Homo sapiens: one gene and its partners. The protein of the gene in region 1 purifies or fractionates together with the protein of each later gene. This does not show direct contact. Each region holds a gene or a part of one and is shown on either strand. Other genes may lie near its edges.

Region 1 (5,047 bases):
GTCTGCAGGATGTTGAGCAAAGAACTTTACCCCTCTGGCCTCCAGACTTTTTTTTTTTTTTTTGAGACGGAGTCTTGCTCTGTCGCCCAGGCTGGAGTGCAGTGGCGCATCTTCGCTCACTGCAAGCTCCGCCTCCCTGGTTCACGCCATTCTCCTGCCTCAGCCTCCCAAGTAGCTACAGGCACCCGCCACCACGCCCGGCTAATTTTTTGTATTTTTTTAGTAGAGACGGGGTTTCACCGTGTGAGCCAGGATGGTCTCGATCTCCTGACCTCATGATCTGCCTGCCTCACCCTCCCAAAGTGCTGGGATTACAGGCATGAGCCACCGCGCCTGGCCCTCCAGACTCTTATCTTGATAATGGGGTTAAAATATCTAACCCCAGAGTTATTGTGAATATTTGGTAAGAATGTGTATACAAACAGTTTGGAACCTGTAAAGTACAATACAGATGTGGCTTTCTGTTAAATTTCCCTAAACCTATCTCATACCCCCATTTACCCCTATCTCCATCTCAGCTGCCAGGGAAATGAGTCCCTCCAGATCCCTCCTCTAGACTGTTCCTAGTACATGCTCTGCACAGATCATCTAGCAATTTAAAACAAGATGACTTGCAATGTTGCAGGAAGTCGGGGACCCCAAATGGTGGGACTGGCTGGAGCCGCGGCAGAGAAACATGAATTGTGAAGATTTCATGGACATTTATCAGTTCCCAAATAATACTTTTATAATTTCTTATGCCTGTTTTTACTCTAATCTCTTAATCCTGTTATCTTCATAAGTTGAGGATGTACACCACCTCAGGACCACTGTGATAATTGTGTTAACTGTACAAATTGATTGTAAAACATGTGGTTTGAACAATATGAAATCAGTGCACATTGAAAAAGAGCAGAATAACAGAGATTTTTAGGGAACAAGGGAAGACAACCATAAGGTCTGACTGCCTGTGGGGTTGGGCAAAAAGAGCCATATTTTTCTTCTTGCAGAGAGCCTATAAATGGATATGCAAGTAGGAGAGACCTGAGGGAGAGTCATGTTTGCTAAGAAAGGTCATGGTATATGGCACCATGTAAAAATCTTCAGAATGAAGGCAGCTACAGTCACAGAAGCAGCTCTGCCATGTAGGCCTAGATGCACATGTAAGACCTCAGATGGACATGGGCCTTGAACAATAAAGCTAATCATGGAGAGTTGAGAAGAAAATTTAACTTCCCCCAGTGAATGGTACAGACATTCCCTCATTTTACTCCATTAGAATTCTGGACCTCTTCTGTATTTCTTTCTGGGCCCTGCTACCTCCTAATCTGCATCTGGTGCTGGGAACCCAATAAGCCCAGCACAATGCCAGTGTGAGGCATTCTGAGATCCGGGATTGGGTTGTGAGACTCCTGACTGAATTACTAGCCTTCTGAGCAAGGCTACCTCTTTAGACCCTTCTCCAGTATAAGCTGCATAAGCTCTGGCTCATTCCACAAACTCCTGCACCTAATCATGTTCCTGGACCTCAGACTGTACTTTCCTGCTCATCCTGCCTTGTTCTATCTCTTTATCATCCCTCCTACTATAGCCCTGAGTGGCACCATCCAAGAGCACCATGGTTTCTCTCCTCCTCAAGCCCTTTTACACTTGTAACAGACCACATGTCCAACCTGGCCATAAAACAAAACTGAGTTCCTGGATCCACCCAGTCCATAAGCTCCAGCTGTTACCAGACCAGACCATAGTAACCACACAACTTTAATCTGAGGTATGGGAGAAACACACCTTTCATTTGGATAGCTCCATGACAACCTCAAGACATTGAATGAAAATGGCATTAAAAGACTGAAGAAAAAAATCTAAACAAAGATCTGTGCAAGAACAAATTGGTCTGGATATTAGTAAACTAACAGGGAAATTCTGCACTAAAACAGCCACATGGAACCCCAAAGTGATCATGGAAAATGAGCGTGAGCTTGAGCATGAGGCAAGGTGTTTCTGATTTTCCGACCTCCTTGGTTTGGGGAATTATTCCTTACCGTCCAGCAGTGCCTTCAAAAGCATACTCCCAGCCATCAAGGGTGCGGCAATATGGCCCTTGGACAAGACCCAAGGCAGAGATGACCAGGCAGTATCCAGAAAAAGCAATTCCGAGGGAAGAAAAGATAATTGACAGCAGTGTCTAAATTAAAACATAGAAGCAGGTTAGTACCATAGAATGCGACAAGGGGATATTGTGGATAAATTATCAGATAGCTACATTCCCCTATTCACCCAAGCTCATGCAGTCTATACAATACTAAATGCCCACATAGAAATAAAAAAAAAAGTAATCCAAACCTATTTGATCTTAAAAATAAGCTTTTAAATAACGTTTAGTTTGGCATCACATAGAGGTAACTAGGTAATTTACTAAATTTATTCTTTCCTTGTGGAATTTTGATATCAAAATAATGATCTCCTCTTATGAAAATGCAGTGAAGGATGTGATCAATCAACCCATAACTATCTATTGAAGACCTGTTATTTTCTAGGTAGAGTGGGTTCTCTAAGAATTATAAGCTATGACCTCTGCTTTCCTCTTATAAAGATATTAAAATATCTTTACAACAATATAAAGGAAAATGTCAGGTATAGTATTGAAATTTATATTCATATTCAAGTGACGATAGGATTGATGGAGAGGGGGGTGTTTTCATTTGAGTAGAGAGAATGGGTGTTATTCACAGGCAGATCAGTGCAACCAGAGTTGTGAGAAAGTAGGTTTAATCTAAGAGGGGTTTATTCAGATGAGTGAGGAGAAAGGCTCTGAAGACAGATTGACATGGTACTAATGCTGGGAAAACAAGGTTGATAGGGCACAATTCAGCCCTTGAGTAGCTTAAAAAGTGAGTACAGCTTGGTAGATCCAGGCCAGAGCTGGCCTTGAATGCCAGGTTAAGAAATCTGGACTTTATCCTTCAGGGCAAGGGACTTCCCTCCTCCCAACCTTAAAAAATGTCAAATCTACAAAAAAGTTGAAAGTATAGCACAATAAACCCCTACATATCCTTTATCTAGAATCACCTACATGAATATTTTACCATATTTGTTTGTGCTTTCTCTCTTTCTCTGTGTGTATGTGTGTATATATTCATGCAAAGTATATATGTACACCTGTACATATATACAAATATGTATTTATTATGTGTTTTTGTTACTGAGCCATTAGGTTGCAGACATTATGATATTTCACCCCTAAATATTTCAGCATACACCTCCTAAGAATAAAAACATTCTATTATTTTGTAACTTTTAAATTTTTTTTGTACAGGATCCAATAAAGGTTTATGTACAAGACTACATCTCTTTAGTTTCCTTTAATTTACACTAGTCTTTCTGCCTTTTTGTTTTTTGGGGTGTTAAACTGTTTTTAAGAATCCCTGACAGTTGTCTTGTAGATGTCTCACATTCTGGGCTTTTCTGATTATTTTCTCACAATTGAATTCAAACATTTTAGCGAGAATACTTAATGGGTGTGGTGTACATTGTGGGCCTTTCATGCTAAGGGTGGTGCTAAGTTTGATCTCTTGGTTAAGAGTATCCTTCAGATCTCTTCCCTGGATAGGTACATTTTCCTCTTGGCAATTAGTAAATAACTGCCAAGGTGATGCTTTGAGACAGTGTCATATTCTGTTTCTTAATAACATTTCAACTGATGGATTTAGCATCCACTGATGATCCTCATATTCATTGATTACCAGCAATCACTGTGGTTCCAATGTGCTGCTTTCATAATGCTATAATTTATCTGCATTTATGTTATCATTTTTCTGCACAGAACAACTTCCATTTCCCATTCCTCTCTCCTTTGCCTCTGTCTATATTTTCTGGACTCACAGATCTTCTAATTCATTGTGCTATAATCCATAAATGCGATTATTCTTTTAGATGCACAGATGGTCCAAATTCGGCCAATGTGAACATCCCTGTAGGTCAACTCCTATGCCCTTTGACATACTCATGTCATTCTTTGAACATTTTCTTGCTTTCTGGCACAAGATGTTCCAGGTTCATTTTGAGCTTACCCTGCCATAGACCTGGAAGAAGCTGGGGTTTTGTTGTTGTTGTTGTTTTGTTGTTGTTTTTGAGTTGTAGTCTCACTCTGTCACCCAGGCGGGAGTGCAGGGCCTGATCATGGCTCACTGCAACCTCCACCTCCTGGGTTCAAACGATTCTCCTGCCTCAGCCTCCTGAGTAGCTGGGACTACAGGCACGTGCCGCCACGCCTAGCTCATTTTTGTATTTTTAGTAGATATGGGGTTTCACCATGTTGGCCAGGCTGCTCTCAAACTCCTGACCTCAGGGGATCCACCTGCCTTGGCCTCCCAAAGTGCTGGGATTACAGGCATGAGCCGCTGTGTCCGGCCAGAAACTATTTTTTAAACAAGTCTTGTAATTGGTTTTTGAGCAGGAAGTGATATGCCCAAAATGTGCTTTTGGAAGATTGCTCTGGCAGTGGTCACACAAGCTGGAAGTAAGAGACCTCAAAGATAAGGATCCAGCTTGGAGACAGATGCAAGTTGAGGTGACAAAGACACACATTGGAGGAAAACACATTAAGGAGGAAATGAGTAGCTGGAGATGAAAAAAAAAAAAAAATCCAGAGCTGGGGCTTGGATAAAAAGGAGACAGAAATAAGGATACCAAGAAAGGTTATTTGGTTTGGGGGAAAAATTAGCTTTAGAAATGTTGATTGCAGGGTGAGAGTAGGCAGCAGAATAGTAACATGCAGTAACCAATTGATAATAAATTCAAAAGCTGAGACCAGAAAAAGTAAGACCAACAAACCTGTGATTTTAGGAATAAAAATCATCTCAATAACATTTCTTTGTTTAAAATTATTTCACTGAGTATGACATTAATATATCCTCTTTATGGAAAACTGGAAAAAATATTCACTGGGAAGATCAGTGAAGAATTTCTTCATTGGGGGAAACTGGCAGCCATAGCATACACACACATGCACACGCACACACTACAATCTAATGAGTGGATACCATTGCACTATCAAGGTAAGCCTCAA
Region 2 (5,581 bases), on another chromosome or scaffold:
ACAGATGCAACGTGCTGCTGTCCAGTTCCATGTGGGAGATGTCATTGCTCTGCCAAGTCTCTGGAGATGATCTGCCCCTTGGGTAAAAGAGATTTCAGTGCATACTCATTTATACACCATACACATTTCTAAAAAGTTAGTCTACAACTATCTTGGAACTTTTAAAACATCAAAAAAGAAAGTTATGTATTAACCAGCTATCCTCCCAGTATGTCTCTGTTTATCCCAAAGGGAGTGATTAAAATTTGCTGACAGCTTTAAAAATTATCAGGGAATTGCCAGAATGTCCCAAGTTTAATAATTAACAAAGCTTAGAACGCAGAGTCAAATCCAGAGACTTTTAAACATAAATCATTGTGTTGGTCACCTACTAATTCGAAAATTCTACACACTACACTCTTGATTTTGGCCATTTCATCTACTAAAACCTCTATCGTACACATTTGTAACCCCAATTTCATTCCAACTGCTAGATTTCTCTCCCTGGGTGTCCTCCCAGAACCTCCAACTCTAGACGTCCTATCTTTTCCCAAAACCTTCTCTCCCTCTTCTTCATATCCCTCTTTTTGCTAATATCACCATCAGATGTGACACACGCCATTTGATGCATGGCACTCTGAATAAAAAATCATCAGTGCTATTCATTGATCACAGAAAGAGCTAAACCTTTCTGATATACAAGCCTCCCCATAATTCATCCCAACTGACTTTTCTAGCTTTCTCTCCCACCAGACCCCTCTGGCAACTCTCCGCAATGAAGTTCTTAAGTTATCCTACACGTTAGCATGTTCTTTCACATATTTGTGGTTTTATACAAGCTGCTCTTTAGTTTAAAAATGCTTTCTTCATCTAGTCCCCTGGTGAATTCATATTCATTCCTGAAGACATAGTTCAGATGTCACCAACTCTGTGAGTTCTTAGATTTTCTCAGACAGAGTTTGATGTTCTCTCCAATCACCTTCCCTAGAATTTTTTATATGCACTATTAAAGCACCTATCATATGCCAAAGAGTAGTAATTATTCTTGACTGTCTTCCACATCAGCTTGTGAGGGCCCCAGGAACAATGGCCCTGTATAAATCATCTTTTATTTCTTTTGGGACAAAATGTGGAACAGGAAGTAAATGTTCATTGAATGAATGAATAATGAATCAATGAATGGACCCCTCCCATGGCACGCACCACCTTCTACCTTGTATTGTCTGAGTATCCCATCACCCTTCTTGAATTGACAAGTCTTCCGGGGCAAGAACAACATGATCCATTTTTGAATCCCCTACACAGCCTCCCTCAATTCCTATTGTCTGAATAAATGGGTAAAACTCTTGAGGGGCTTGTGCCATATTTCAGACTCTGCAAAGCTATTTTACTCACATTGTTTCACTTGCCCTGTAATCCAGCAGTGACTAACTGGTGTTATCCCCATGTAGCAGATGAAGCAATTGAGTAAGACTGGGCCTTGGAAGGCTGCTTTCTTGGTTCTTAGAACAATGCCTATTCCGTGGAATGTTCTTGAGAAAAGTCAGATCTACTCATCAGTACCTTGTTTTGATCAGAGTTCGGGAGGATGAATGCAGAGGTTTCACCACTGCTTGCAAAAATAGTTAAACCCTTATCTACCTTTTCCAGATGAGTCTAACATGAGTAATGTGATTGAACCTGAAGGTGTGGAGTATGAATCAGAAAGGGACAAATCATGAAGGGAAAATAGAAAAATCTGAATCCATTGGGCATACTTTAGTGAGAAAATGACTTCGGGGGCCTGAAAAGAGAAACTTCAGCTTCTGTAAGATGGGGTGCTATGCAAGGCAGCATCAAGAGGCACTTAGTAATATTTTCTAAAACACCTAAGTAGGTATGCTTTTAAGTCCAACTTCCTCTAGGAGAGAAGATGTCAAAAATACTGAAAGAAAACTGAATTTATACACAGCCTTGGCCAACCTCAGCATGTTGTGATTACGCATCTATGTACCTGCAACACCAGGCACAGGGCCTGGCATGGGCGAGCTCACCAGAGCCTGCTAGACAGATGTGGTAGCCTGAGATCCCACCCAAAGGGGAGAAAGGCTGGAGCAGAGGCAGGAGGACTGGACCATGGTCAGCACCAAACATCCAATGCCTTGGTTTTTTCTCCAGCCACAGGAGAGTCAGAACAACTCTGTCCTGCCCTCCTGGCAGGGAGCAAGGCCAACCTCTACTTCCCAAAGGCCACTTGAGAACTCCTTAAGGCAAGTCTTAGACAATGCATCCACGGGTCTGGAGGTGTCCTAATTACTGCTCAAGTACTAGGCAGCGTTAGGAGGTGGGCCAAAGCATGCCCAGGGGGCCATTAAACAGGCTGTGCTGAGAGCATCATTGATTCCCATTGACCCTATCCCATAGGATCTGCCTGATCCTCCACAGAGGGTAAGTTCCACCACTACCCCCATCCCTTCTTCTGGCTTCTATTTTTCGGTGCCCTTGGTATGTACACAGCCCCGTGTGGCTGAGGGGGTAGTGTCTGTCCCCATCCTTGCCAAATATGGGCTAGGCCAGAGAGCAAAGCTGCAGCTTGGCCACCCTGCGCTAGGAGTGGGGTGGGGTGGAGTGGGGGTGCGAGAGGCATAAGAGGAAAACAGGCATTTGCCAAAAAGACACTGCAGCCTCAAGTTAGATCCGTGACAATCACAGAACCTCAAAGAATCAGGAGGGCCTGGAAAGTCTTTGGCAATCGATTGGCCAGGCTCCAACCTCTTCTGTTCAAGGTCGTTTTCCTGACGCCAGGACAACAATACGATGTGGTGCATGCTTGCTCTAAGCGAGGGTGCGGAGTGTCCAGGTCAAGTTGGAGCAAATGACTGACCTTTGTGCCACCTCCCCACCCCTTTTCCCTGGCTTCGAAAATTCCAGCAAGCGAAGGCCTAGCAGCCTTCTGGGGGAGAAGTTCAAAGTCTGGCCCCAGAGCTGCAACAGGCTTCCAGCCTCTGGCCTCTGCGTCCGGGAACGCACCCAAAATTGCCCCCAAAGGAGGGTTCAGTGCACGGCGCTCTGGACCCACTAGAGCCCTGCCCGTGCGTGGACAGTCTGGGGACTCCAGGGTCAGCCCCTGCCCCACGGCCGCCCCCCGCGTCTCCCCCAGGCAGCCACCTGTCCGAGCGCGTGAAGAGGAAGGAGGGCGCACAGCCGCGACTAACCTGAGATGCCGCCCCCCACCACGACCACGTCGCATTTGTTGCTCATGGCGCTCGCCCCGTTCCAGGCCTCCCTGGTGCCCGCTGCTCCGTTTTCTGGGCCTCGATCCCAGTCCTGCCTGCCAGCCAGCCCGCCCGCCTGCCCGCCGGCCTGCTGCGCGCTGCCCCCGTGCACCAGCGCCTCGGCGAGCCGCTATATTACCAGCCCCGGGAGCCCGGACGCGCAGCCCCGCCCGCCCGCCTACGCGCAGGCAGGCCGGGTGCAGCGCAGGGCCACCGCCCCCGCCCGCAGCTCTGCAGCCCAGGCCCGGGGAGGGCGGGTGCCTGGGCGGAGAGGTCACCTAGGACTTCAAAGAGTCCCGCCCCAGAATCCCCACTCCTCAGCCTTCTGCACGGTATTTTCCCATCAGCCTCCCTAGTGCACTATCAGGCTTGGCGGCTGGGAGGACGGCAAATTGGGGTGTCTTCCTTCAGGGCCCCAATTACTCCTTGGGTGTAGGGCAAATAATAAGAAACTTCCATTGAGTGATTTCAAGGTACCAGGCACTGTGCTCAGTACTTTATGCATGATTCCTGTTCAAGCTTACAACAATCCATTTTGCAGATGAGGAAAACAAAACATGGTGAGTGACAACATAAGATAAAAAGTCAGAAAGAAAAAAAAAGAAAAGAAAAGAAAAGAAAAGCTAGGAAGATTCCAAGACCCACTTTGATTCACCACACAGTACTACCATTTCTTGGCATTCCCAGCCCACCTCACCCTCCTTCCAAATACCCACTTCTTTCCCCACTCCCCCTACGTGATTAAGTCAGGAAGGCTCCTCCCTAGCATCACAAATGCCGCACCTTAAATACACTCTTAAGCAATGCAGTGTGTCCTTGGTGGAAGCTGTTGAGGCTAGACCCCAGGAGACTAGTGGCAGCAGGGAAGAGGTGGTGGATCGGCATTGTGGGATTCAGAGCCCCCAGAAGCAGCAAGCCAAGTTACCTGTGTGACCCTGGAACGTGGGTATGAGGAGCCTGGTTTAGCCAAACACAGGGATGATTCAACAAGATTATAGGAGTTTAAGCTAAGGTGACTCCAGGGAAAACAGAAGTTTATGTCTTCTGGACAGTAGGAAAGCCACCTCTGAGAACTAAAAGTGGGAAGCAGCAACATAGAATGGCTTTTCAAGAAATAAACAGGTGAAGTGCTTCTGTTCAGGCCTGAGAGGGGCTGGCTTCAGATCTGGGGAATTTGATGAGAACCTGAAGCAAACCTCTGCCTCATCCCACACCATTCCCTGTATCTACCTGCTAGAAAGGTATCCTGAGCTTCTGCTGTCCTCAGACCAGAAGACAATTTGGGCACTTCTGTGACTGAGTCACAGGTGACAGGAAAAGTCTTTGTCCACCTCTGACTTCCATCTGTCCTGCTTTGGTATAAAACAGTCAGACCCTGTGCCTGAACCCCGATCCCTACCTCATGTCCCCACTGCAGAGAATGAAGCTACCTCACCCTGCAGACAGTTTGTGCTGACCTCCTCCTTGCCATCCCCTATCTGGTCCACTTCTGTTCACAGGTCCCTGAAGCTGTGGGCTTCTTGGCTGTGGATACTCTTGTCTCCCCACCTAGCCTGCAAGTGAATTACGTGCCAGGTGAGGTAGGATGAATGGAGAGGATCTGCTACGGTTTGAATGTGTCCCCCAAAGTTCACGTGTTGGAAATTCAATCCTCAATGCAACAATGTTGGGGCATGTTTAGGTTCCAAGGGCTCCATCCTCATGAATGGATTAATGCCACTATAAAAAGGGCCTGAGACAGCAAATTTGACCTCTTGCTCCTTCTAACCCTCATTGCCCTTCTGCCATGGGATGACATATTGGGAAGGCCTTTGCCAGATGCCAACATCTCATCTTGGAATTTGCAGACTCTAGAACCATGATACAATAAATTTCTCTTCAATGTAAATTACCCCCCTTAGGTATTCTGTACTAGCAGCACAAAATGGACTAACACGAGATCCTTGTGGGATCTTCTTGGAATCTCTTTTGCTTAGTTCCAACAGTGCAAGTCAGCCAGGAGCCTGGGGATCTAAGACTTTGAATAAAAGGCAGACTGATAAACCCTTCTCTATGTCCAACTGGCAATGAGGGCAGGAGAGGATCCACACGGTTCCATGGTATCTGGAGAAAATTCATTAGCAAACAGCATTTTCCCCAAACAAAGGTAATCAGTTACCTTGTGCTCCATGAGGTATATTTTTAAAAGGGATGGGGGTGGGGATTGAATTAGAACCTAGGACTTGGTCATAGGAAAAACAGCAGCCACCTGTTGTCCCCACATACAGGCAATCATCTGGATCCATTCAGGACCCTCAGTCTCTTAGGTGGGATGATTTCTGAGGTCTGTCTTCTCCATCTGCATTGTG
Region 3 (5,279 bases), on another chromosome or scaffold:
GCTGTGACACGCAGGCTGGAATGCAGTGGCCTGATCACGGCTCACTGCAGCCTGGACCTCCCAGGCTCAAGCAATCCTCCTACTTCAGCCTCCCAAGTAGCTGAGACTACAAGTGCACACCACCACCCACAGCTAGTTAAAAAAAAATGTATAGGCCAGGCACAGTGGTTCACGCCTGTAATCCCAGCACTTTAGGAGGCCGAGGCGGGCGGATCACCTGAGGTCGGGAGTTCAAGACCAGCCTGACCAACATGGAGAAACCCCTTATCTACTAAAAATACAAAATTAGCCAGGTGGGGTGGCACATGCCTGTAATCCCAGCAACAAGAACGAAACTCTGTCTCAAAAAAAAAAAAAAAAAAAAAAATTTGCAGAGATCCCTATGATGCCCAGGATAAATAATAAAACCTTTTTTTTCTTTTTTGAGACAGAGTCTCACTCTGTCACCCAGGCTGCAGTACAATGGCGTGATCTCAGCTCACTGCAATTTCCACCTCCCAGGTTCAAGGGATTCTCCTGTCTCAGCCTCCCGAGTAGCTGGGATTACAGACGCCTGCCACCACACCCAACCAATTTTTTGTATTTTTGGTAGAGACAGGGTTTCACCATATTGGCCAGGCTGGTCTCGAACTCCTGACCTCAGGTGATCCGCCCACCTCTCGGCCTCCCAAAGTGCTGGGATTACAGGTGTGAGCCACTGTGCCCGGCCAAAACGCAGTCTCTAAAAACATAATTAAAAAATAATTAAAACAGGGTGAGTCTGAGACCATCCCAGGAAACCTGGCTTCCACTGCACTGAGGAGGAAGCCACAGTGGGTGGGGGTCCCCAGACCTGGGAATGGGAAGGCACTGCCCAAGCTCTGCTCTTCTTCCAAGAATCCTGATGTTAACGCAGACTCCCCACCCCAGCCCTGCTGCCCCTGCTCCCAAAAAGCAAGCAGCACAGTAGCTGCACACAGGGCTGGGTGTCCATGTCCCACCTTCTATGGGCTGGGCTCTCATGGAGGAGGGGCTGCAGCAGCGACCCCAGGCTGCCCAGGCCAAGGGAGACAGAGACCCAGAGGCAGGCGGAGGATGTGAAGCAACTTTAATTGCCACCCTCAGACGGGGCAGCAGGAGTGTCTTAAGCACAGGGCCGTTCTACCCCCTGGGAGCTGCCTGGGGCCAGCCCCTCAGTTCTGGCTGTGGCAGGTTCCCCATCCTAGCTCCCCGGATCTCCATAGGGAGTGTCCAGGGACCCTCAATCTCCAGGGCCACTTCTGCAGGAGCTCGGGTTCGAGGTTCCACGTGGCCAGAAGAGCTCAGGTCTCTGAGGGCTGGTGTGCCCGGGTACCCATCCGCATCACTGCTCTCCTCCTGTCCGGCTACGCCCAGGGCTGAGTGACGGTGGTGGCAAGTGCTTGTCCTCAGGGCAGCGAGGTCTTCTGTTCTGACAGCAGCAGGGACTCCTTCATGGCCACCAGTAACCCCAGTGGGCGGAGGCGCTCCTGGGCTCGGAGCCAGGACAAAAGGAGGAGGGTGGCGGTGACCAGGCTTGCACTGAGCACCGCTGTGGGGAACAGATGGACAGAGGAGTAAGGAGGGGGAAGGCAAGAGCCCCCACACCCACCAAGCTCCATACACATGGGGATGGGAGTTCTGCAGCTCATCCCTCCCCACCCACCTCCCCTGAATCCCCGGAGCTCTAAGCCCCCAGCATGGGAGGGTAAGTCCCTCTTACCAGCAGCTGCAATAACCCCATAGGCAGTTGGGCTTCCAGACTGGTCTCCGGCAGAGGAGGATGTGGCATTCCCGACAGAGGGGACACTCTCCAGGGTCACAGGGGGCCCCATGGTTGTGGCATTCCTGAGAGAGGTGACACTCTCCAGGGTCACAGGGGGCCCCATGGTTGTGGCATCCCCTTCCGGGAGGATCTCATTGGTTCCTGCAATAAGCCCAGGCGTTCAGTAGTTGAGGAGAGAGCACTGAAGGCGTGAGGGGGCCAGATGCCCAGGGGAGCCCTTGGGGTTTATCCTCAACCAACCAGGCTGGGTGAAGCTGACTGCCCGTAATTATGTCTTTTTTTTTTTTTTTTTTTGGAGAGGGAGTCTGGCTCTGCCACCCAGGCTGGAGTGCAGTGGCGCAATATTGGCTCAGTGAAACCTCTGCCTCCTGAGTTCAAACAATTATCCTGTCTTAGCCTCCCGAGTAGCTGGGATTACAGGTGCACGCCACCACGCCTAGCTAACTTTTGTATTTTTAGTAGAGACAGGATTTCGCCATGTTGGCCAGACTGGTCTCGAACACCTCACCTCAGGTGATCTGCCTGCCTCGGCCTCCCAAAGTGCTAGGATTACAGGCGTTAGCCACCGTGCCCGGCCTTTTTTAAATTTTTTTGAGACAGAGTTTTGCTGTCACCCAGACTGGTGTGCAGTGGCCCAATCTCAGCTCACTGCAACCTCTGCCTCCCAGGTTCAAGCGGTTCTCCTGACTCAGCCTCCTGAGTAGCTCGGATTACAGGTGTGTGCCACCATGCCCAGCAAATTTTTTTGTACTTTTAGTAGAGACGGGGTTTCGCAGTGTTTGCCAGGCAGGTCTCGAAATCCTGACCTCAGATGATCCGCCCACCTCAGCCTCCCAAAGTGCTGGGATTACAGGCGTGAGCCACCGGGCCCGGCCCCTAATGATGTCTTGATTCCCCCACAGGGATGCAGGCACGGGCAAAGGCATGTGTCCACGCCCCCAGCCTGGCCACGCCCCAGCAGGCAGTGGGTGTCCCCATCTACCCACGAGTCCACCCCAGCCCCGCAGGTGCATACCACAGCCGAGCTCGTCGCTGGAGTCGGGACAGTCTGGGTGGCCGTCGCAGCGCCACGTGAGTGGAATGCAGTCATCGCTCAGCGTGCAACGGAGCTCGCCTGCTAGGCAGGCCAGGCGGCTGCAGTTGCGCAGTTTCTTGTCAGTTCCCCCAGAGCAGTCACTGACGCCGGTGCAGGGGCAGGGGAGGCCAGGGGGCGGTGGGCATTGCCCTTTCTGGGTACATGGCTCAATCCCTGGGGCACAGGGTTGGTCAGGTCCCAAATGCCCACCCAAGAAGGCCCAGGTACTCCCTGAAACCCCATCCCCTGCAAGCCCCACCCTCTAAGAACAGCTGAGCCCAAAAAAATGCTCCCTTCCTAAGGCTCCGCCCCCTGCAACTGTTAACTCCACTTTCTAAGGACAGGCCTCCCTGCAAGCTCTTCCCCTGAGACCCCACTAGCTCTACCTTCCTACAAGCCCACTTTATTCTATTTGTTTGTTTGTTTCTTTCTTTATTTTTTCTTTTGAGACGGGGTCTCCCTTTGCTGCCCAGGCTGCAGTGCAGTGGCGCAATCTCGACTCACTGAAACCTCTGCCTCCCAGGGTCAAGTGATTCTCCTGCCTTAGCCTCCTGACTAGCTGGGATTACAGGGGCCTGCCGCCACATCCAGCTAACTTTTGTATTTTTAGTAGAGATGGGGTTTCACTGTGTTGGCCAGGCTGGTCTCGAACGCCTGACCTCAAGTGATCCGCCTGCCTTGGCCTCCCAAAGTGCTGGGATTACATGTGTGAGCCACCGTACCTGGCTCCCTCCCTCTCTCTTTCCTTCCTTTCTTTCCTTTCTTTCATTTTTCTTTTTTTTTTCTTTTTCTTTTTTTTTCCTGAGACAGTCTTACTCTGTTGCCCAGGCTGGAGTGCACTGGCACAATCCTAGCTCACTGCAGCGGCAACCTCCCAGGATCAAGTGATCGATCCTCCCACCCTAGCCTCCCAAAGTGCTGGGATTGCAGGCGTGAGCCACTGCGCCCAGCCCAAGCCCATCTTAGACCCCGCTTCTTATGACCCACAGACCCAAGTCGCACCCATCCCTGCGGCCCTGCCTTTCCCACAAGCTCCACCTCCGCGTGCCTGGCCCCTGACAAACCACCCTCAGGCCCCGCCCCCTGTAAGCCCCGCCAAGGGGCGTGGCCACTCACTGCACTCCTCCTCATCGCTGCCATCGCTGCAGTCCAAGTCCCTGTCGCAGCGCCAGGTGAGGGGCACGCATAAGCCACTGGTGCGGCACTGGAACTTGGTGGGTGGGCACGAGCCTGAGCTGGGGCCTGCGAGATGGATGCAAATGAAGCCTGGGAAGCTGGAGGCTGGACCTTTCTCCAAGAGCACAGTAGTCACTGGCTGTGATCCGCAGGAGACAGGCGAAGTCCCGGGATATAGGAACCACACTGGCGGCTGCTTGTTACTGAGCCCCTAGTACGAGTGGGGTTCAGAGTGTAGCAGTTCCTGGGCTCAAGAGCCCCACTGGGCAGGTGCTACTGCACTCCCCAGGTTACAGAGAAAGGAACCAAGAGGAGGCCATACAGCTGGTGGCAGAGGCTGGGTGCAGTGGCTCACGCCTGTAATCTCAGCACTTTGGCAGGCCGAGGCAGGTGGATCACTTGAGGTCACGAGTTCGAGACCAGCCTGGCCTACATGGAAACCCCGTCTCTGTTAAAAATACAAAAATTAGCCGGGCGTGGTAGTGCACGCCTGTAATGCCAGCTACTCGGGAGGCTGAAGCATGAGAATCGCTTAAACCTGGGAGATGGAGGTTGCAATGAACCGAAATCATACTGCTGCACTCCAGCCTGGGCGACAGAACGAGACTCCGTCACCACAAAAAAGAAAAAAAAAAGAGCTGGTAGCGGAGTTGGGCTTCGAACTCAGGTCTCGCTGATCCCAGAGTCTTCACCAGGCTCCTCATAGCGAGATGATCTGCCAGGGAGACCTCCAAACTCAGTGGTTAAAGAGACTGAGGGACGGGCCATTTTTCCACATGCCCTGGGTCAGGCTCCCGGGCTCAGGTCAGCAGGGAGGGTCTATCTCCTCTGCGTAGCAAAAGGGAAACTGAGGCAGTGGGTGGGAAACTGAGGCACTGGGTAGAAAATCTGCTCAGTCACCAAGTCCTGTTGCCCCGCCTCCTGAATTCCTCCCAGACCTATCACTCTCCCCATCCTAAATGTGTCAGCTCCTCACCAGAGCCCCAGGCCCCAGGCCCCAAGGTCCATTAGGACACCAGAGACTTGCCTTTCCCTCTCTCCTCCCTACACCCTGTGTTTTCCCCTCAATTTTCAGATCTCAGCTGATTTCCTGGGAGGGTTCTCATGTCCCTCTTGGAGACCTAGGAAGCACTGCCTCCCATGTCTAACAACTGTCCTTAAAGCCCTGGTCATGCCTGTCCACCCACAGACTGGACATTCTGTGGAGGTCAGGGCTGTGACCTGGCCGCCTAAACCCAGGGCAGT
Region 4 (5,047 bases), about 41 Mb from region 1:
AACAAACTAAAGAAAATACTCAGATAGCTCTGAGTATTCCTCTATCTATTTCTTCTTAGCTTTCTGAGTTGCCTTTTTCACTGCTTCCAAATGGATTCATTAATGAAGTTGAAGGAATACAGTACATGAGCAAAGTGACGAAAGGGAAAAAGAATACCCTAGTTGGGGAGGGAAGAAGAGATAGCTTCCTTATAAAAAAAACAAATGAGAAGGCTGGCCGTGGTGGCTCATGCCTGTAATCCCAGCACTTTGGGAGGCCAAGGCAAATAGATTGCTTGAGCTCAGGCATTCAAGACCAGCCTGGGCAACATGATGCAACCCTGTCTCTACCAAAAATACAAAAATTAGCTGGCGTGGTGGTGCATGCCTGTGGTGCATGCCTGTAGTCCCAGCTACGTGGAAGGCTGAGGTGGGAGGATCTCCCTCGTCCTGGGAGGCAGAGGCTGCAGCGAGCTGGGGTCGTGCCACTGCACTCCAGCCTGGGCGACAGAGCGAGACTCCATCTCAAAAAATAAAAAAACCCAAAAAAACAAATAAATACAGAATAAGAATCCTACAGATGGAAAAGCGTTGAACAGAAACATGCCATGAACCACTCAGCAGGAGGGGGATCCTACTGAACAGAGAGGCCCATTCCGCTGGGACCTGGGCTGGATGACAGCACTGGATTTTCTCATCAGCAGATGGAGGCACGCCTCCAGGACTGCTCTGTGTTCCTTACTATTTATTTACCACCACTGCACACTCGAATTCTGTCAAGCTTCCAAAGCTGGCAGGGAAAAGGGTGGGTCCTGACCCAAGGAAAGCCAATCTGTGAGCCAGCCAAAAGCTGGTGAGTCTTTCTCAAACAGGAAAAATGGCAACAGACTGGACTGACAAGTTTCTCCCTGCCACTGGACTCTAAGAAGAAACAGAAAAAAACCCAGAAAGTTGGTGATGGGAAGGGAAAGTGAAAAAGAAACAGAAAGGAGACAAGGATGAGTCCAAAGCTGTAGGTAAGAAAAGTTGTCTGTGAGAAGGCATGAATAGGATAAAAAACAGTGGCATAAACAAGAGGGTGAGCTAGCTGGCTAATAGGCAAAGAATCAAAGACAGAGGAACTCAGGAACTATAACTGACAGGGGCATCACCTTACTCTTGCTGCTGAGAGGGCAACACGATGCTTCAGTTCTTTGATATGGAATGGATCCTTCCAATTCCTAGACTACATACTGTCCCACCCCTGTGAGGCCCAGTTATGTATCTGAGCTCATAGGAGTCCAGTTTCTGTTAGTGCCATGGGCGGCTTTAAATAGGCCTCCCTTACTGTGGAGGAACCTGGGGGAGTGACTTGGTCCTTGTATCCAAACAAGAAGCCAACCTCTTTTTAAAGTAGAACAGGGTAAAATGGGTTGGGATGCACTACATTTAGCAGCCTCCCCAATAAACTAAGCAGAAATACAGAGCTTTATTTGGGAACATCAGGATAGTTACATGTATATACAACTGACTTCAATGAAACCATGCCTTATATCTATGTTCTACAAAGAAAAAGAGAACTAAACAACTATCTAAATTTCTGATGGTAATATGGAAGTTCAGAGATAAGGTTTTAGAGTTACATTTTTGAGCTCATAAATGTATTTATCAGAATAAACACTGCCAGGTGTAGTGGCACATGCCTGTAGTCCCAGCTACTTGGGAGGCTGAGGTGGGAGCATTGCTTGAGCCCAGGAGCTCGAGGCCAGCCTGGTCAACATAATGAGACCCTGTCTCTAAAAACAAAACAAAACAAAATAGAATATTGCTAACCGCCAAGTAACTCCTTTTCTTCCCTAATAATGTAGAAAGAATACTTTCTAGTTCTAAATCTCCGATCCAAGGGATGTCACAGTTGGCTGGCCCATTCTGAAAAAAAAAGATTTATGAAGAATGGTACTTCAAAGGGACATCAGTCAGTTGTGATCCCTCTAAATATTATAAAACCAAACAGTGTACAAGTTAATTTCACCTGAGTTAATTCTCTCCAATATGGATATAACCCATGTGACAAAAGAATTATTACGATTTCTGCTGCTACCATGAGCCTAAGACATTGACAGCCATATATATATATTTTTTAACCACAAGCCTTAAGCATTCCATATGAGCATACTTGCAATGCTTCTTGATTTGTTCTTCTCTCCCTGAAACATCTGACTCCATGCCATAAATACATTTCCAGGGTTTAAATTTTTCAGAAACATTTTTTCTATTGATACCAAATTTACCTCTCCTTAAATTGAACAAGAAAATATCTGAATTTGTATCTATACATAGATATAAATTCTACGTATATATTCTGCATCTGCATCATTCTAAAATATCTGGGATGTTGTGGTAAATATGGTACTTACTGCTACCAGATTGATTTGTATCAAAACACTATATGCCCTTATATTGAACTAACTGGTAATGGCTTTAAAAATGAGAAAGTATTGATCCTTATAATTATATAAACGTTCTCTACAAACAACAAGCCCAACTTTAGTGAGTTTGGTTAGGTTCTTGTAATCTTTTCTATGCTTTCACATTAAGTTATTGTGCCCAGTCCTTTTTCTCATCTTATAAAATTAAAATGCTTCCAATAAAAGAAAAAAAATACAACACAGTTTAAAAAGTTAAAAAATAGAAAGTGAAAGTCACTTTCACAGAAAGTTGTAGAAAGTGAAAGGCCTACTCTTTAAAATAGCAAATTAAGGCTACAAATTTAAAGTTGGAAATAATAAAAATTATAAAAGTTAAAAATCTCATAGCGACATTAACTTCTTCTTGAAGAGAAAGCTTGGATTTTTAACTATTTGAGGATTTTATTGCATTTAAATCAAAACACAATCATTAGGCTTTTCTAAAACAGAACACGTGCAATGAGTAAAAATTATTTTGGAGACACTTAAAATTTTAACTTCCTAATATAAACGCTCAAATTTGCAACCTTAATGTTACATAGATTCAGATTTACACAGTCAGATTATATAAGCAAACCATATTAATGTTCCTCCTAGTCTACCATGTTATCTAAAGAGCAACTTTCCTGTACCTTGTCTCTTCTTGCCTTTCAACTGACTGTAGGTGTCCCTCTGAACCCTGGCATCAGACAAGTTGATTTAAAAAGTTAATTTAGGATACTATCAATAAAATTAGGACACTATCAATAAAATTGCACTAAATTTTAAACATATAGCATAAATTTTAGCATATAGTATACTTATATGCTAACCTATGACAAAGAAAAAATAATTTGGGGTACTTGTCAAGATTTAAGTCATTTTAATTTTAATGTCAGAACAGTGACAGGTACAGTACAGTGGTTTCACAGGCTTGGAGGAACGTAAGTGATGGAGAAGGCAGGAGAGTGAAGTTAAGGAGGTGGCAGATAGACAATGCTTAGTTCCACTTGAGACATTGTCACCAGACCTGCTGGCAACTGTACTGAAGATCATTCTATGCTAGATATGGAAGGCATGGGGTGGCATGGGAGTAAAAGGGAGGACAACCCAGATAGTGAGGAAAAAATAAGAGCGTGCTGCCCGTCAGCCAAAGGTATCTCATACTACTTCACCAGAGTTGTATGGATACTGCAAATCACACACTATTCTCAGGCATTTGTGGGGAGCAACAAAACCAGGAGTGTCATCTTCCAGAACCAGACACATGGTGATTGGAAGATGTAACAAAAATAGAATATGCACCAACATTCAAGATGTTCACTGTAGCTACCACATGAATTCCATTCTGCTTTAGATGTCTCCATTGTATTTTATGGCATTATGTGGTATAAAATTAGAAAATTTCATTGAGCAACAACTAAGACTTATGAACTCATATGCTAAGGATACGCAGATTTTAGTTAAGTATTTTAATTATTTATCTAATAAGCATTAATTAAAGAAAGACACAGAATATATGACAGAATTGAATTCAATTAACAATCATCAAGAACCAAAGTTCAGAAATAAAGGTAAAAGTTTTTTGAAACTATTATGTGAGTCATATGAGAAATTATTTGACTATAACAATTCAAGTTTCGTATTAAGTTTTAGAAACACATACAGCAAAGTTTACCTAAAGCAAAGCAGAAACACTATTTTTTTACTCCATTAATTTATAACTTTTGATTATTTTGATAGGTGGTTAAGAGTATGTTTTATTTCATAAAAATATAATTTTTTTAAAAAACGGAAACTAATATAAATTACATTATTGGGAACATCTTGAGCTTAGGTAAGATAACATTAGTTTCAGGCACAATTGAAAATATCTCTCTGTGTACATATATCTCAATAAAAAATAAGAATTTATGCAGAAATGTTACTTGAAAATTGGCAGATTAAATATACAAGTTAGAAACAATGAAGTAAATTCCATACTTACTAATAATTGATTTTAAAAGGAGTAAAAGCCTAAATTTTGAAACTCAATGTTTTCATTATATTGGTTTTAACTAGAACTGTTTTAAAGTCATGCATTAGAGGTCACTGCTCTTTAAATGAACAAAATTGATAGATTGTGAATTTTAATTCCTGTCTGGGGTGTCTATGTCTGCAAGAAAAAGAGCAAGTGACAAACAAACAGGTCTGTGCAGGACAGCTCTATCACAGAAACACTGGAACAATTAAAAATCCTATTCTATTACTTAAAATGGATCCTCAAAGATCTCTCCCCTTTTACTTAGTATAAAAAGGTACACATTCTAATAGATAAAGCCATTTTCCTTTAAACTACTTTGGAAACCAAATTTTCATTAATCCTATATGTCTTCTACCCTCTTTAATTACCCTCAAATCATTCCAATTGTATTTTCTGACTTCTGGTCTTAAACTGGAAGAACCAACTAAAAATCCTATATGTCTTCTACCCTCTTTAATTATCCTCGAATCACTCCAATTGTATTTTCTCATTTTTGGTCCTAAACTGGAAGAACAAACTAAAAAGCATTTTCTAAGTGATATATCTGAAATTATTGGCATAGGTTAATGAAAATAAGATTGACTTACCCACAAATTTCATATAAACTAGTCCAAGTAAT

The links.
Region 2: the proteins of TM4SF18 (region 1) and MAOB purify together in Homo sapiens (affinity purification with mass spectrometry; one large-scale study listed by BioGRID and IntAct). This does not show direct contact.
Region 3: the proteins of TM4SF18 (region 1) and CD320 purify together in Homo sapiens (affinity purification with mass spectrometry; 2 studies listed by BioGRID and IntAct, with this or other methods). This does not show direct contact.
Region 4: the proteins of TM4SF18 (region 1) and CD47 purify together in Homo sapiens (affinity purification with mass spectrometry; 2 studies listed by BioGRID and IntAct, with this or other methods). This does not show direct contact.

The regions. Positions count from the first base shown.
Region 1 is NC_000003.12:149,322,859-149,327,905, forward strand, and holds part of TM4SF18 (transmembrane 4 L6 family member 18), read right to left. Parts: intron 2,165-5,047; coding exon 2,022-2,164; intron 1-2,021.
Region 2 is NC_000023.11:43,879,081-43,884,661, forward strand, and holds the start of MAOB (amine oxidase [flavin-containing] B), read right to left. Parts: upstream 3,371-5,581; 5' UTR 3,220-3,370; coding exon 3,174-3,219; intron 1-3,173.
Region 3 is NC_000019.10:8,301,057-8,306,335, forward strand, and holds the end of CD320 (CD320 antigen isoform 1 precursor), read right to left. Parts: intron 4,101-5,279; coding exon 3,975-4,100; intron 3,033-3,974; coding exon 2,799-3,032; intron 1,925-2,798; coding exon 1,721-1,924; intron 1,550-1,720; coding exon 1,407-1,549; 3' UTR 1,071-1,406; downstream 1-1,070. UniProt on the Homo sapiens protein: Receptor for transcobalamin saturated with cobalamin (TCbl). Plays an important role in cobalamin uptake. Plasma membrane protein that is expressed on follicular dendritic cells (FDC) and mediates interaction with germinal center B cells.
Region 4 is NC_000003.12:108,052,462-108,057,508, forward strand, and holds part of CD47 (leukocyte surface antigen CD47 isoform 1 precursor), read right to left. Parts: coding exon 5,016-5,047; intron 3,106-5,015; exon of another isoform or gene 3,059-3,105; intron 1,888-3,058; exon of another isoform or gene 1,792-1,887; intron 1-1,791. UniProt on the Homo sapiens protein: Adhesive protein that mediates cell-to-cell interactions. Acts as a receptor for thrombospondin THBS1 and as modulator of integrin signaling through the activation of heterotrimeric G proteins.